2 separate regions of the Homo sapiens genome follow, and region 2 is linked to region 1. Evidence: fine-mapped QTL for protein levels in blood plasma. A gene starts in region 1. The other region holds a variant in brackets. All regions are shown on one strand. Distances are between the middles of the regions.

Region 1 (8,984 bases):
GCCTGGGCGAAAGAGCGAGACTCCGTCTCAAAATAAATAAATAAATAAATAAATAAATAAATAAATAAATAAATAAAATAAAATAAAGTAATTCAAAGAAGGCTAATGAGGACACATTGAGGCGAGCAATTACCTATAACCTAAGGGAACCTGAATAAACTTGGATACAAACTAATCGGGAGAAATAGGGTAGTAACTTTTCTTCTGGTTTTTAAAGGCCTTTTTGAGGTACAAAGCGTTATGAAAGATTGGTATACAAGGAAAAAACTGTTGAAGCCTAGGGGATATAAAAGCCAAGTTCAAAGAAAGGACCAAGATAGGGATGGAGCCTTGAGAAGGAGGAGAGGTTAGCATAAAACTTCATGTTAAATGAGAAATATAAATATAATGAAAAATAAATTTCAATAAGAATATCAGGCTATAATTTCATTTTCTAAAGACCAATGTTTATTTTGCCAATACAAACTGAAAGAAAGGAGCAATCTAAGTAAAGAAGAAAAGAAAAGGGAAAGAGGAGAATGGAAAGAAGACAAAAAAGGAAAGAAAAAAGTCAAGGTATGTGATCTTAAAAGTAAATTATTTGCTCATTAACATAACAAAAAGCAAAAAAAAAAAAAAAGAAATTTGCCCCCTCTAGTGTGTGTTTTAACGGAAAACAAACTGTCTAAAACTTTCCCCAACTTCCACAATATAAACTTAACAGTAGACTGAAAGAGGATCCTGAGCTCTTTATTTTGTCTAACTTTCCATAGAATTTTACTGAAATGTTTAAGTAAAATGTATTACAGTTAAAGTACTACCATTCAAAGGAAAGCTTATGTCTTGAACAGGAAAGATCAAAGATTAGATTCAAAGTGTTTTTCATAAAAATTCATCTAATTGTGTTCACATCATTTTAAAATTCTGAATTCACCTAATTCACTGTAAAACTCCTTCCAATAAACATACTGTATAATTTTTATAAGGAAGCACCATGGCCTTAGTTCAAAGACATGACAGGGGAGGGATGGGGACAAAATATGTTGAAACAGAAAAACAAAACATTTATTCCTTCTTCACCCTCTTAGACAAAAAGGCTCATCTCTACCCTACATGGACAGCTTTTAATAGCTGAGAATTTGCTTTCATTCCACATCTTCCTCTACGCCCACCCACCTACCCACCCACCCAAACCTTCATACAGACTGTCTCCCTTGACTTTGGCCTTTTGTGTACTACATATTAATTTGCAGACTTTTAACTGCTTTTGGTGCCTAGAATCATTTTCTGCAATTGAAAACTGAGAATATCAAAAGTTGTTTCTCATAATGAATAAATAAATACATAAATGGTAATAAGTGCTCTCCTTAATGAAAAATAAAGGCCAAATTTGTATCAAGAGAGTAACATTACTGAAACCAAAATAGCTAGAGAACAGTAAGTCTAACATCCAAATGTCGAATTAAAAAGAATGATGTGAAGGGAGGGAAAATATGGTGAAATGATCAAAATACAGTCCTTACATGAAAAGGTCTAGATTGAGTAGATAAAGGTAATGGCAATAGTAAAGAGATAATTAAAGTAGCAAAAACACTTGATATATCTGAGAGAATCAGATATGACTCAAAGAGTTTATTAGCATCTTTAACTAATCTATAACAGAGACAAAAAAATTTGAGATTGTTTCAAAACTGTTATCTTCAGGTTCATGCATTTACTAATGACTTACCTAAAGTGACTACTTTTAGCATTAAGGAGGATAGTATTGATCTGGGGGTGGTGCTATCTTCTACTGTAACTATTATTTCAGATTCTTTATCTTAATCTGTTAAGAGGAAATTAAGTATTGAAAGGATTCAATAATCAGAGTTACCAACTTGAATACTAAAATCCCCATGTCAGTTTCATATGGTCAGTCTCAAAAGGACATCAATGAATCACTGAAGGATGCACCTATTGTCCTATAAGCAAATGTAATAATGATTTTTTAAAATGCCAACAGTGCAACTACATTTGTTAATAGCATGTCCAGTCTGTTGTCTAACTGCTAGTAAAATTCAATACAAAATATGTGTGTGTGATAAGAAAATACACAAAAATACACCAACATTTTTCTTCCTTTTCCCTTCTGATGTTTAGAAAATTTGCGAACTGGTTTAAACCAAAAGGGGTAAAGGAATGAAATTATTCCTTCAGGCTTAGAGGATTCTGTGCCAAGTTTCATTTCTGGCTACATATTTCTAACCAAGTTCAAGATCCCTGAAAAGGAATACATAAAAGAGAAAATATCCCTTTAACCTCAGTGGAATGACATTAGTAAAGGCTGCTATGGGAAGAGAAAGGCTTTTGCCCTGAGATGGGTGTGCTCCTGGTGTTTGGTTTCCACTGAGAGGATGCCTGCTCTCTCAATGAATCTGAAGTACCTACTAGGATGAGGTAATGGCTGTGCCAGTTTCACTGGGTCATGCTCTTTCAGCACATTCTTTCCCTGTCTCCTCCCTGAGAAGGTGCTGTAAACAAGTCATCCTGAGAGGTGCTGCAGAGAATGAACAATCCTAAATTCAAAATTCTTGAAAACACTGGCCCTCCTATGGCAGTATAGAAGACTAAAGCAGCCATAAAGAAACAGGTTATTTGATTAGAAAAGGGAAAAAAATAAGAGAGGAGATAAATAAAATAAAAATTAATATAACTAAAATATTATTTTATAAAAGGTAGCTCTATTTTTAAATTACTTAGATCTTCAGATGTGTGTTAAGCAATTTTCTACTTATGGTTTTAAAAAAGAAAACTTTGGACATTAAATAATATTGTAGCAAACTGTAAAATATGAAAAATTAAAATTAAATAAACCACAGATAAACAGCATGTACCACTGATCCTAAAGCCACAATGGCTCTGATAATATACAAATCATGAATGCAGATGTACACCTATGATAATCAGATGAAATTACCAGGAAATCAACATAAACATACACACACAAATATAATAATCCTTACTGAATGAGAAAAATGCCTTTTTTCTTGAAGGAAGGGTTCTTTGTGTGCATGGGGCTGGGGCTTTTGGAACATCCATGATTTGCAAATTCACAAGGATTTCTACCAAAATACACCTATTGCCCGGTTAAAGGGCTGCTTTGTGTTATATTCTGATGGAAGGCTGTAATCTTTTCCCTGGGCATAAAATTAAAAGCATTCTAAAGGGCTTCTATTTATTCAATCTATTTGACTGCCAAAAAAAATCATAATTGTCCACAGTGAAATGACATAGTGAAAGAACTATGCTTTTGAACTGGGCTGGTACCTGCAGCTCATGCATGGGACATTTTGCATAATGTGGCTCACATAGAAGGCTTTGTTCTCCATCGCCTCACTGTGGCTGCAAACCTCAATTTCAGTTTGCAATCATTTCCTTTTCTAGACTGATCATTTTAAAATAAATTATACCTTTAACATTTAAATTAGTTCCTTACCAACAGTCATCAATCCCTTTGCCTCACACCCAAAATTATATACCACCCAACAATATTTTTTTGTTTTGCACTACAGATTTTATTCACAACATAATTTCCAAACCCTCAAATACAATTTTAAAAAATCAGTCTCTTAAGTACCTATTTCCTTTTGTAACATGTATATAGTGTATTATACATTTGTGTGCATACTTGTGTGTTTAGGCATTTAAACAAAAACCCTTTACACCGGACTCAATTTTAAAGCGTCTATGTCCTGGAAGCATTGTGCTAAGAGCTTACGACAGATGGCACACAGCAATTGTCACAAACGGGCTTGTTGCTAATGAAAGCTTTTTATTTTCTGACAAAAATCCTGAAGTCCGGATGCCAGGCAGAATAACATTAATTTCCAGTTTTCAAGGATTTTTTTTCTGACTCCATCCATACCCCTCCCCCTATACACACCCAAATATACAGCTCCCCACTCCTAGCCCCCCACACACTCTTTCTTGAAATTTCCATCCTTAAACAAAAGACGAGGTGGGGGAAGGCAGGCAGCCAGCACTGCAGTCCTCCTCTCCCCACCAAAAAAGCCTTTTAAAAAGAAAAGGAAGAAAAGAATAGATGCACTGTAGATTCAGAGGTCCACCCCCAACGTTTAAAAAGAAAAACGACTGTGTGGAAGCCTAACCAGACTCATTTCTTCGTGCCCCGCCCTCCAACACCACCAGGCATTTATTTTTCATTTTCCTACAATTATAAATATCAGTCCTCCTCTCCCAGCTGTTTCTGAAGGAATTACAGAGAAACATGATTTGAAATGGACAAGGCTTCCCTCACTCACTCACTTCCCAGTGTGCAGTTCTCTGCAGCTGGATGAACAAAAAAATCCCCTACCTCGATTTCCTATTTTCCACTATCTTTGTAGAATCCACTCCCCTTCTTTCCACAGCGCAGGTAATACTGGCTTTCGATACACGTATTCTAACCTGGCGTAAGTTTTCAGTTGTTTCAAAGTGGTACCTAACAAGCTCACTCGCTCTTCTACGAAGCCAGGGCTCAGGTACCAGTAGCGTCCGGCCCCCTGCTCCGCAGTGACACCTGGAGAGGACAGGCCCGAATCTTCCGCCAGGTGCACGGCTGGCCACTCGACCAACTACCAGACTGCCTGCTGCGAGTCCCAGAGGACGAGACACAACCCCTCCCCATTCCTATCTCTTTCTACTCAGAGACCGAGGCAAAAGGAGAGGCGCCCTACATAGAGCCAGAGGTGGGGACGGTCTCTTACCTGGGCGCAGAAACTGGATGCACCCGCGGTCGCGACTGCCACCGCTCACGGACTTAGCGCCCTCCGGAGAAAAAGGAGAGGGGTAGAAGGGTTAGGGGAAGAAGGGGAGGGGGGGGAAAAAGAAGGAGAAGGAAGAGAAAGAAGCGGAAGGGAAGTAAAGGAAGAGAGGATGCTGCTGCTGCTGCTGCTGCTGCCCAGAGCCCGCGCAGCCCGAGCGCCCGCCCCAGACTGAGAGCGGCGCCCCCAGCCGGCTCCCAGCGCAGCAGCTCCGCCTCGGCCCCTCCTCCCCGCCCCGCGCAGGTCCCGCCCCGCGCAGGTCCCGCCAGACTCCGCGAGCCCGTGGGCGGCCGCGGCGGGGCTGGCGCTGCCACCGCCGCAGTGTCCGGGAGGGGGAGCACGACCGCTTCGCCTTCTGCCGCAGCCGCCGGCCGCCAGGCGGGGACCGCGAGGTGGGAGCCTCGGAGAGCCCCGCCCAGCCGCTGGCCCGGGCCTTCTCCAGAGCCCTGGTCCCCTCCCGCGACAAAGTGAGGCCAGTGCCCGGGCGGCGGGACAGGCGGGCCTTCCTCACTGGCGTCCTTGGAAAATCGGGGGCAACAGCTTTAGTCTCTCGGGAGCAACCTCCGCAGACCCCCTGCTTCCCTCCCCTGTGTCGCTATGAGGCGGGGTTGCCAGTGGCACCTCACCAGGAAAGCTCACTGGCCTCGCCTCACAAACCCAACCACAGGTGCATCCAGAAAAGACAAAGGAATGTGGGGCGCTTGAGAACATAGAACAACTCTTGTCAGCACTAAAGGAGCAATGGCTGAGGGAGTAGAGAATTCTAGACCCAGCTCTGTCACGAATTAGATTCATTCATTTATTGAGTCAACGAATGTTTATTGACACCTACTATGTGTCAGGCACTCTTCTAAGCATTAGAAACATCAGTGACAGACCTTTCCCACAACCCTAATAAGAAAGATCCCCTCCCTTTATAGTTATTACATTCTAGATAGCCAGACGTATGCTCTAGAGACAGTTCACTTAATCTAACTCTCAGTGTATTCATGTGTCATATGAGAACTAAAAATGACAGCCCAATTCTCTTATGCTTAAAAAGATAATGAATATGAAGGATCTTTGAAGAATGATACAAATACAATGAATTAGAAAGCACGGAAAGTGTTGACCTTGAAATATCACCCTTAAAAAAATTGCCTCTTAAATGCTTTTGAAAGTGAAATGACCACCTGAGAAAACAAATGATTCTTTACCATTCGTACTAAGGAGTATGAATCTTCATAATCAGAGAGCAGCATTTTATTGTAAGTAAGAAAAGTAAGATGCAACTTAGAATTACTTCGAGTGTCTATATCAAGTACTGACAAGGTGTTTTTAAGGTCAGCCAACATACTGAGGTGTGGCTTGTACAGTCTTCACAGTGCTGATGAAACAGCAGCCATAATGTGGTTCTGTCACTTAAATTAACCACAGAATCTTAGAACCTAGAACATTAGAGTTGATGTTTTAGGCAGCTGGTCTAATTTCCTCCATTTTCAGATGGAAAGAGACCCAATGGTGGGAGCCTGCAAGGATTAGAAACCATCACAGAGGAAGCTGTGAAAGCCTGCCCTCCCCAGTCACACCCAGTGCTCTGTGTCCTGCCTCCCCCGCTCTGCTTCATACCATGTGCCAGTGACGCTTGCAGTGAGTTTGGAAGTATCAAGGCACACCCAGGAGCTGGGAGGTTGGAGGAGTTGATGCTCCTCCTCGGAAGATGGCCTTACTGAGAAGGAGGTCTTAGGAGACTAGGAAATCATAGACAGTATGTGGATGGGAGGAAGGAGTAGGCATGCTACCAGAGTGTTAGCAGCTGACATTCATGACCAGGCATGCAGGCGCAGGTGCTCAATGAGAGTAATTTTCCAGGGCCAGGAGCGGTGGCTCACACCTGTAATCCCAGCAGCTCAGGAGGGAGTATCGCTTGAAGCCAGAAGTTTGAGGGTGCAGTGAGTTATGATTACACCACTGCACTCCAGCCTGGGTGACAGAGTGAGACCCTGTCTCTAAAAAACAGCAATAAAAAAGACATTATTTCTCTGATAGTTTAAAGTACAGTGTTCCTCAGCACTTTTTGTTTTTGTTTGTTTGTTTGTTTGTTTGTTTTTTCCTCCACTTTAAGATTAGCTGAGGCAGCCAAACTCTAATGGCTTTTCTCTTTGGGGAACCTGGTCCTTATATGGGAGATTGCCTCCTCTCGACACACATCTTAGAGTTCTTTCAGAAAAATAGCATCTATATGTTGTAATTCAATAGAGAGAATTTAATATGGGGAACAAATTACAAAGGATTCAAATGACTAAAAAGCCAACTAGGGGATGATGAGGCAACACGATGATAGTTACTAGCAGGAAAGTACTACCACTCTCAGGCTGGGGAGTGCTAGAGAGGAGGCTTTACCAGGAATGAGGAGCACAAGCTACATTAAAGGAACTGAGACCACAGTGGAGATGCTTACTGGGAGACAGATAATGCTGGAGGGTCCTCCAAAAGCTGAGAGTGAAAAGAAATATTGTGGCCCTCCTTTAACCTGTATTTCAAAACCCTGTCATTGGGTGAACCTAGAAGAAAGTCAGTTGACAAAGCAGCCTAAGAAATACAGTTTGCAGGAGTCAGTGCCCTGGGATGTCAAACAACTTTAGGAGGGGACTCCATATGTTTAGGCTTCTGGTTTAAGGAGGGATCTTTGTGTTGAAGTGAACTTTTTTTTTTCCCTCAGCAAAGCATCCCTTCCTTAGAGTAATGATCCTTTTCATATGATTCCCCATATGCTAGTAAAATGTGTGCCTCTCTTCTCTTTCTCAGAGGTGGACATGTGACCCTGGCTAACTCTATAGTAGAACCTGTTCTCCTAATGTATAGTGATTGATACAGGGTGGTCATATGTCCCAAATATTTCCAATCAGGCTTTTTTCCATGAGATGTGTCATATGAACAATAGTGAATCGGATGGTATAGGTATAGAGTTGTCAGTGACTGTATTTCCTTCCATGCAGAAAAGCAATGCTGAGAGATGGAGAAAGAACACTTGAAAGACTCCATGGATCCTGCTACGTCTCAAGGTAGAAATGCCATTTTTCAAGCCAATAGATTTTTGTTTCTTTTCTAAGCTTGCTGTAGTTGGATTCCTGTCATTTTCAACTGAAGAAGCCTTGACTAATACAGTGCTGGACTCCAAAAAGTAAACCACAGATAGAAAGAGCCTGCCAATATTGATTTCCACAATTACTTGTCTTGTCTTCAGGCTAAATTCTTGATTTGTATTTATTTGGCCCGGAGGATTACGTACATAAACAACCATACCCTTTTCTCAGGGACAGGACTTCTGATAGTTTCTCAGTCAGAAAACCATCAGAATAAATGTATTTCTACTGATTAGAGAAAGGTCTACTGGTATATAGGAAGTAATGAAACCTTCTCCCCAGAGAGTCAAGGAGTAGGTGAGCCTTTGAGGAGGTTGTACTGCATAGTGTTAAGAGCACCAGACTTCAAGTCAGATCTGAGGGCCCATATTTGCTGTTCCCTGCTTGTGTGACCTTGGGTACATCTCTCTACCATTTTGAACCTCAATATTTTTATTAGCAAATGAGGAGACTCAACCACATGCCACCTAAGGTCACTTTAGTTTTATAAAGCTATGAGAAATTATAGCTCAGCTGAGGATTTGCTTATTAAGTTGATGAACATTAATTAAGTGGCCCCTAGAGAAACAATGAGCAAGGTTCATACATACACAAACAATGCTGATACAATGTGCAGCCCATCATAGAAAAGATGTGGATGCAAGATGCAGGTATGACACTGAAGAGCAGACACACATAAGTCTTTTACCTTCTATGTGTGAAATGGGCTTTTTGTGTTTTGTTTTTAATTTCTTGACCTTTTCTCTATGGATGACTAGAGGCACATCTATCAAAATTTCTATCATGTTTCACAAGTTTTGACCATTGCAATGGCTTTAAAATTTAAAAATGAGCTTTGTAGTATGGTCTCCCATTTCCAATTCTATGCCTAGTTCATTGAACAGGTGGTGAAATTACCATTGACTTCTTCTGGACCATAAATGTATCATTCTGTTCAAAAATTTTGTTGAGGTATAATTTACATTCAGTTAAAAGCACAGATCAGAAATGTTCAATCTACACCTTCAGCCCCAACCCATAGAGGTAACTACACTTTTGATTATGTTTCTCTGTGGCTTCACTTTGCATATTCTTGGAA
Region 2 (8,984 bases), 71 kb before region 1:
CAATGGACAGGACAACACAGAAACAAAGTAACAGAAGAATCAAAGCCCAGGGGGTGTTTGGAAAAATACCTAGCCTGGAGTATGACCCATAAGAAGAGCAATAATTGGGTGAAAAGCTAAGTTGGCTCTATATAGGAAGTAATGACCTTGAATGACAATCTGAGGAGGCTATTCAATTAAACATATTTAATTTTGTAGGTGAAAGTGGACCACTGAAGGTTTTAAATTCAAGAATGGCATAATTAGGAAATTTAATCTGGCAATATTATGTAGATTGGATCAGAGAGGGGAGTGCTTAAAGAAGTGTTCAAAAAAGTGGCTCCTTCAGAAGTCCAGGTGAATGGTAATGAAGACACAATTCAGGTGGAGACAGTGTCCATATAAAGGAGAGTGTTACAACTATTGCATGGATATGTGTATTAGTCTGCTGAGACTGTGATATAGTTCTGATGTTTGTCTCCACCCAAATCTCATGTTGAATTTTATTCCCTATTGTTGGAGGTGGGGCCTGGAGGGAGGTGACTGGATAATGGGGGCAGAGCTCTCATGGCTTGGTGCTGTCTTCATGATAGTGAGTTCTCACAAAATCCAGTCACTTAAAAGTGTGTGCCACCTCCTCCCGGCATTCTCCCTCTCCTTTTCCTCCCCACCCCCTGTCTCTCTTTCTGGCTTGCTCCTGCTTTCACCATGTGAAGTGCCTGCTCCTGTGTTGCTCTCCACCATGAGTAAAAGCCCCCTGAGGCCTCCCCAGAAGCTGATGCCGGCACTGTGTTTCCTGTATGGATTGCAGAACCATGAGCCTATTAAACTTATTTTTTTAATAAATTACCCAGTCTTGGGTATTTCTTTATAGCAATGTAAGAACAGCCTAATACATTGAACTGAAGAGTGGGGTGTTGCTATAAAGATACATGGAAATGTGAAAGCAGCTTTGGAACTGGGTAATGAGCTGAGGTTGGAAGAGTCTGGATGGCTCAGAAGAAGACAGAAAGATGAGGGAAAGTTTGGAATTTTTTAGAGACTAGTTAAATTGTTGTGACCAAAATGCTGATAGTGATATGGACAGCAAAATCCAGGCTGATGAGGTCTCTGATGGAAATGAGGAACTTACTGGGAACTGGGGCAAAGGTCACATGTTTTATGTGTTAGCAAAGAGCTTGGCTGGATTGTGTCCATACCCTAGGGGTCTTTGGAAGTTTGAGCTTCATGGTGACTATACAGCATATCTGGCAGATGAAATTTCTGAGCAGCAATACATTCAAGAGGAGGCCTGGCTGTTTCTAATAACCTACACTCAGAAGCAGGAGCAAATAAAAGATTAAGAATTGGAATTTATATTTAAAAGGGAAGCACAGCATAAAAGTTTAGAAAATTTTTCATCTAACCATGTGGCAGAGAAAGAAAAAGCTTTTTTTGAGAGAGGAATTCAAGCAGGCTGTGGAACAACCACTTGCTAGAGAAATTTGCATAATGAAACCCCACCAAACACTCACAGCCAAGATAATGGGAAAAAGGCCTTGAAGGCATTTCAGAGACCTTCATGGCAGCCCCTCCCATCATAGGCCCAGAGGCCTATGAGGGAAGAATGTTTTTGTGGGCCAGGTCCAGGGCCCCATTGCCTGGCACAGCCTTAGGATACTGTACTGCACTGGAAGCTCTGGCTGCAGCCTGTGCTCAAAGGACCCCAGACACTGTCATACCACTGCTCTGGAGAGCACAAACTGCTGTAAGTCTTGGCAGCCTCCATGTGTTGTTAAGCCTGCGGGTGCACAGAGTGCAAGAGTGAATGAGGCTTGGCACCTTCCACCTAGATTTCAAAGGATGTGTAGAAAAGCCTGGATGCCCAGGCAGAAGCCTGCTGCAGGGGCAGAGCCCCAACAGAGAACCTCTACTAGGGTAGTGCCAAGAGGAAATGTGAAGTTGGAACCCTCACATCTGGTCTCCACTGGGGCATTCCTTAGTGGAGTTGTGAGAAGGGGGTCACCACCCTCCAGACCTCAGACCAGCAGCTTGTATCCTGCACCTGGAAAAGCCACAGGCACTCAACAACCTGTGAGAGCATCTGAGGGGTATGGGGAGGATGCACCCTGCAAAGCTAAAAGGGCAGAGCTAACCAAGGCCTTAGGAGCCCCCTCATTGTACCAGTGTGCTGTGGATGTAAGACATGGAGTCAAAAGATATTATTTTGGAGCTTTAAAGTTTAATAACTGTCCCTGCTAGGTTTTGAACTTGCATGGGGCCTTTAGCCCCTTTCCTTTGGCCAATTTCTTCCTTTTGGAATATCAATGTTTACCCAGTGCCTATACCCCCATTGTATATTGGGAGTAAATAACTCTTTTTGATTTTACATGCTTGTAGATTGAAGGGATTTGCCTTGTTTCAAATGAGGCTTTGTACTTTTGAATTAATGCTGGAATGAGTTAAGACATTGGGGAACCATTGGGAAAGCATGACTGTATTTTGCAATGTGAGAAGGACATGAAATTTGGAAAGGACCAGATGCAGGATGATATAGTTTTCATATTTGTCGCCACCCAATTCTCATGTTGAATTGTAATCCCCAGTGCTGGAGGTGGGGCCTAGTAGGAGGGGTTTGGATCATGGAGGTGATCCCTTATGGCTTGGTGCTGTTTTGTGATAGTGAGTTTTCATGAGATCTGGTCATTTAAGAGAATGTGGAGCCTCCCATTCTACTCTCTCTTTCTCTCTTGTTCTCTCCATTGCTTGCTTCTGCTTTGACTACATGAAGTGCCCACTCCTGCTTTGCTTTCTGCCAGGAGAAAAAGCTCCCTGAGTCCTCCCCATGAGCTGATGCCAGCACTATGTTTCCTGTATAGCCCGCAGAACTGTGAGCCAATTAAACCTCTTTTCTTTGTAAATTCCAGTCCTATGTATTTCTTTATAGCAATGCAAGAGATGGCCTAATATAGTCTAACATAACAAAATGCCCTAGACATGTGGCTTACACAACAGATATTTACTTTTTCACAGTTCTGGAGGTTGGAGGGGTGAGATCACATGCCAACATGGTCAGGTTCTGGCGAGGGCTATATTCCTGGCTTGTAGACAGCCACATTCTCACTATATCCTCACATGGCGGAGAAAGAAAGACATGAAGATGGGTGGGGAAATTTAGAGAACTCTCTTTTCCTCTTCTTATGAGGCCACCAACCCTACTGGATTAGGGCCCCACTCTGATGACTTTGTTTAACCTTAATTACCTGCTACAAGCCCTATTTTTAAACAGTCACACGGGCACTTAGAACTTCAACATATGGATGGGGTGGGGCACAACTCAGTCCATAACAGTATTTACAGTCCATACAGAATTTAGGGATTAAAGCCAGTCATGGTGGCTCACACCTCTAATCCCAGCACTTTGGGAGACCAAGGCAGAAGACTGCTTGAGGCCAGGAGTTTGAAACCAGCATAAGCGACATAGAGAGACCACTACAAAAACAATTTTTTTTTTTAAATTAGCCAGGCATGGTAGTGCACACCTGTAGTCCTAGCTACTGGGGAGGCTGAAGCCAGAGGCATATGAGGTTACAGTGAGCTATGATTGCACCACTGAAATCCACCCTTGGCAACAGAGTCCCTGTCTCACACACACAAAAAAAGAATTTAAGGATTCATTGGCCAGGAAAGGCACAGGATGAAGAAAGGAGCCAAGAGAATTTTGAGAGTGTAAGAAAAACAGACTCCCAGTACATTCTTAGAAACAGGAAAGCCTGAAGGGAGATCAGGTTGCTGGGTAAAAGTAGAGGATAATGGGCTTTATTAGACACATTAAGTGTGAGTTTCTGGCAGGATAATAAAGGAAAGGTATTCATCAGGCAACTGACCTATTCATGGAGGGTATGATTTTACGTGATATGCAAAGGAATAAAAACTCAGTATCCAAACAAAACAATAAAGGAGTTAAATTTGTGGTGATATAATTAGGCAAAATATACCAATATAGGGCTATAGGGTCAGAGGTACATGTTCCAAAACATAGAATTAAGTTGTCTAGACAGCTCATATTATTGTATATTTAATCACACTTTGCCTTGACAGGTAGATATAACATTAATAGAGTGCTGGCTATGTGTAAGCCCATATTGTTCTTAATGAATGCCATACCCTGCCTGCCCAGACTGTGGGCTGCTCTGGGTCAATGACCCAGCAAATCTATGTTTGTATTCCAAGCACTTAGTGTGGTATACGGCACAAAGTCAGGAATCTATAAATGTGGAATGACTCACTCCCCAGAAAAAGAGGCTGAGTCATGAGCACT[C/G]CAACTAATTTCACCTCTAGACATTGTATTATTCATACAAAACATCATAGGAAGCGAGGCATGAGATAAGGCTCTTAATGGAATGTTCTGTACTCTGACATGTTTGCTGTAGCTGCCGTAACAATGCTGGAAAAGAAAGTTAAGGCTAAAAAGGCCAGTTACATGCTGGGAAATTGAAACTATTTCACCCATTTGCTGTCACAACACTGAACATAAAATGACTAGGTGATGCAGTAACTAGAAATAAATGTCAGTTGAAAATGAAGAACTTTCAAATGTCTAAATCATGGAATTTGTTTTATGAAGGCTAGAGTACCATTCTAATACAAAACAACAATTATAGGAAATGAGTAACAATTATAGGAAATGAGTATTAAGTGTTTAATACAACTCAATCATTCTACAAAGTTTGTCAGATGCATTATTGATTTAATCCTCACAAAGGCCAAACACAGCAGATACTATTTTTATTCCTAGGAGAAAACTAAGCTTATAAAGATTGAATATCCAGTACCTTTCTGTTTGTTAGTTTTCCTTCTGACAGTCAGGTCCCTCTTCTGCAGGTCTGCTGGAGTTTGCTGGAGGTCCACTCCAGACCCTCTTTGCCTGGGTATCACCAGCAGAGGCTGCAGGACAGTAAAGATTGCTGACTGCTCCTTCCTCTGGAAGCTTTGTCCCAGAGGGACACCCACCAGATGCCAGCCGGAGCTCTCCCGTATGAGATGTCTGTCATCCCCTACTGGGAGGTATCTCCCCGTTATGAGGCACGGGGGTCAGGGGCTCATTTGAGGAGGCAGTCTGTCCCTTAGCAGAGCTCGAGCACTGTGCTGGGAGATCTGCCGCTCTCTTCAGAGCTGGCAGGCAGGAACGTTTAAGTCGGCTGAAGCTGTACCCACATCCCCCTCTTCCCCCAGGTGCTCTGTCGCCGGGAGATGGGAGTTTTATCCACAAGCCCCTGACTAGGGCTGCTGCCTTTCTTTCAGAGATGCCCTGTCCAGAGAGGAGGAATCTACAGAGGCAGTCTGGCTACAGCAGCTTACGGCACTGTGCTGGGCTCCGCCCAGTCCAAACTTCGGGTGGCTTTGTTTACCGATGTCTTTTATTAAGGCAAAGAAATAACAAAAATCACAGATAAGGTGGAATATATACACATATATGGCCAGCATATATTATTTTTTCATCTTCTGTTTTTAAGTTTAGAGCACTGACAGATTTTCCTACCTATATAATTCTCTAAGGAGTTCTGGCATATTCAAATTCAGGCAGAAACAATAGGGGAAAACATGCTTTGAAGAAACCTGAAAACCAATGATAAATTTTTGAAATGAAAATATCTCAATCTCTTTTAGTTCTTTCTGTGTTTTCAGTGGGACAAAAACTTTGGAAGATGGCAATATTTATTTATTTGTTTTTTAAAGTGAAAGCAAGTCTATTAAGAAAGTAAAGGAATAAAGAATAGCTACTCCATAGGCATAGCAGCCCTGAGGGCTGTTGGTTGTCCATTTGTATGATTATTTCTCGATTATATCCTAACAAGGGGTAAATTATTCATGCCTCACCTTTTTAGACCATACAGGGTAACTTCATGATATTGCCATGGGATTTGTAAACTGTCATGGCGCTGGTAGGACTATAGCAGTGAGGATGACCAAAGGTCACTCTCATAACCATCTTGGTTTCAGTGGGATTTAGCTGGCTTTTTTTTTTTTTTAATTATACTTTAAGTTTTGGGATACCTGGGCAGAACATGCAGGTTTGTTACATAGGTATATATGGGCCACGGTGGTTTGCTGCACCCATCAAACAGTCATCTACATTAGGTATTTCTCCTAATGGTATCCCTCTCCTTGCCCCCAACCTCCCCAACAGGCCCCGGTGTGTGATGTTCCCTGCCCTGTGCCCATGTTCTCATTGTTCAACTCTCACTTATCAGTGAGAATGTGTGGTGTTTGGTTTTCTGTTCCTGTGTTAGTTTGCTGAGAATGATGGTTTCCAGCTTTATCCATGACCCTGCAAAGGACATGAACTCGTTCTTTTTTATAGCTGCATAATATTCCATGGTGTATGTATGCCAAATTTTCTTTATCCAGTCTAACATTGATGGGCATTTTGGTTGGTTCCAAGTCTTTGCTATTGTGAAGAGTGCTGCAATAAACATACAAGTGCATGTGTCTTTATGGTAGAATGATTTATAATCCTTTGGGTATATACCCAGTAATGGGATTGCTGGGCCAAATGGTATTCCTGGTTCTAGATCATTGAGGAATCGCCATACTGTCTTTCACAATGGTTGAACTAATTTACATTCCCACCAACAGTGTAAAAGCATTCCTATTTCTCTATGTCCTCTCCAGCATCTATTGTTTCCTGACTTTTTAATGATCACCATTCTAACTGGCATGAGATGGTATCTCATTGTGGTTTTGATTTGCTTTTCTCTAATGACCAGTGATGAGGAGCTTTTCTTCATATGTTTGTTGGCCACATAAATGTCTTACTTTGAGAAGTGTCTGTTCATATCCTTTGCCCACTTTTTGGTGGGATTGTTTTTTCTTGTGAATTTGTTTAAGTTCCTTGTAGACTCTGGATATTAGCCCTTTGTCAGATGGATAGATAGCAAAAATTTTCTCCCATTCTGTAGGTTGCCTGTTCACTCTGATGACAGTTTCTTTTGCTGTGCAGAAGCTCTTTAGTTTCATTAGATCACATTTGTCATTTGTCAATTTTGGCTTTTGTTGCCATTGCTTTTGGTGTTTTAGTCATGAAGTCTTTGCCCATGCCTATGTCCTGAATGGTATTGCCTAGGTTTTCTTCTAGGGTTTTTATGGTTTTAGGTATTATGTTTAAATCTTTAATCCATCTTGCATTAATTTTTGTATACAGTGTAACGAAGGGGTCCAGTTTCAGTTTTCTGCATATGGCTAGCGAGTTTTCCCAACACCATTTATTAAATAGGAAATCCTTTCCCCATTGCTTGTTTTTGTCACATTTGTCAAAGATCAGGTGGTTGTAGATGTGTGGCATTATTTCTGAGGCCTCTGTTCTGTTCCATTGGTCTATGTATCTGTTTTGGTACCAGTACCATAACATTTTGGTTAATGTAGCCTTGTAGTATAGTTTGAAATCAGGTAGCATGATGCCTCCAGCTTTGCTCTTTTTGCTTAGGCTATACAGGATCTTTTTTGGTTCTGTATGAAATTTAAAGTAGCTTTTTCCTAATTCTGTGAAGAAAGTCAGTGGTAGCTTGATGAGAGTAGCATTGAATCTATAAATTACATTGGGCAGTATGGCCATTTTCATGATATTGTTTCTTCCTATCCATCAGCATGGAATGTTTTTCCATTTGTGTGTGTCCTCTCCTATTTCCTTGAGCAGTGGTTTGTAGTTCTCCTTGAAGAGGTCCTTCACATCCTTGTAAGCTTTATTCCTAGGTATTTTATTCTCTTTATAGCAATTGTGAATGGGAGTTTGCTCAAGATTTGGCTCTGTGTCTGTCTATTATTGGTGTATAGGAATGCTTGTGATTTTTCCACATTAATTTTGTATCCTGAGACTTTGCTGAAGTTGCTTATCATCTTAAGGAGATTTTGGGCCTGACGATGGTGTTTTCTAAATATAGAATTATGTCATCTGCAAACAGAGATAATTTGACTTCCTCTATTCTTAAGTGAATACCCTTTATTTCTTTATCTTGCCTGACTGCTCTGGCCAGAACTTCTAATACTATGTTAAATAGGAGTGGTGAGAGAGGGCATCCTTTTCTTGTGCCAGTTTTCAAATGGAATACTTCCAGCTTTTGCCCATTCAGTGTGATACTGGCTGTGGGTTTGCCATAAATAGCTCTTATTATTTTGAGATATGTTTCATCAATACCTAGTTTATTGAGTGCTTTTAGCATGAAGGGGTTTTGAATTTTATCAAAGGCCTTTTCTGCATCCATTGAGATAATCATGTGTTTTTTGTCATTGGTTTTATGTGATGGATTACATTTATTGATTTGCATATGTTGAACCAGCCTTGCATCCAAAGGATGAAGCCAACTTGATCATAGTCGATAAGTTTTTGATGTGCTGCTGGATTTGGTTTGCCAGTATTTATTGAGGATTTTCGCATTGATGTTCATCAGGGATATTGGGCTGAAATGTTCTTGTTTAGTTGTGTCTCTGCCAGGTTTTGTTATCAGGATGATGCTGGCCTCATAAAATGAGTTAGTGAGGAGTCCCTCTTTTTTTATTGTTTGGAATAGTTTCAGAAGGAATAGTAACAGCTCCTCTTTGTACTTCTGGTATAAGTTGGCTATGAATCCATCTGATCCTGGGTTTTTTTTGGTTGGTAGCCTATTAATTACTGCCTCAATTTCAGAACTTGTTATTGATCTATTCAGGGATTCGACTTCTTCCTGATTTAGTCTTGGGAGGGTGTATGTTTCCAGAAATGTATCCATTTCTTCTAGATTGTCTAGTTTATTTGTGTAGAGGTGTTTTATAGTATTCTCTGATGGCAGTCTGTATTTCTGTGGGATCAGTGGTGATCTCCCTTTTATCAATTTTTATTGTGTCTATTTGATTCTTCTCTCTTCTTTATTGGTCTGGCTAGTGGTCTATGTATTTTGTTAATCTTTTCAAACAAACTAGCTCCTGGATTCACTGATTTTTTTGAAGGGTGTTTCATGTCTCTCTCTCCTTCATTTCTGCTCTGATCTTAG

Alleles and levels. Positions count from the first base shown, and alleles are read on the strand shown. Strength reflects both the effect of a copy and how common the allele is.
In carriers of allele G in region 2, the plasma level of the protein whose gene starts at base 4,954 in region 1 tends to be higher than with C alone (moderate association).

The links. PIP is the chance, under the fine-mapping model, that this variant and not a neighbour inherited with it causes the effect. The UK Biobank Pharma Proteomics Project read protein levels with antibody pairs (Olink). The fine-mapping took linkage between variants from a reference panel, not from the people measured, so its PIPs are less certain.
Region 2: its variant is fine-mapped to the plasma level of the MAP2 protein (UK Biobank, PIP above 0.99).

The regions. Positions count from the first base shown.
Region 1 is chr2:209,420,017-209,429,000 of GRCh38, reverse strand. MAP2 (microtubule associated protein 2) reads right to left here and starts at 4,954. Exons shown (of 16, transcript NM_001375505.1): 1 at 4,725-4,954. RefSeq lists a silencer at 4,884-5,273.
Region 2 is chr2:209,491,439-209,500,422 of GRCh38, reverse strand. All of the region lies in intron 1 of MAP2 (microtubule associated protein 2), which reads right to left. Among named protein-coding and RNA genes, the nearest start is that of MAP2, 72 kb to the right of the region's middle. RefSeq lists an enhancer at 4,245-5,444. The variant C/G (reference allele first, on the strand shown) is at 4,280.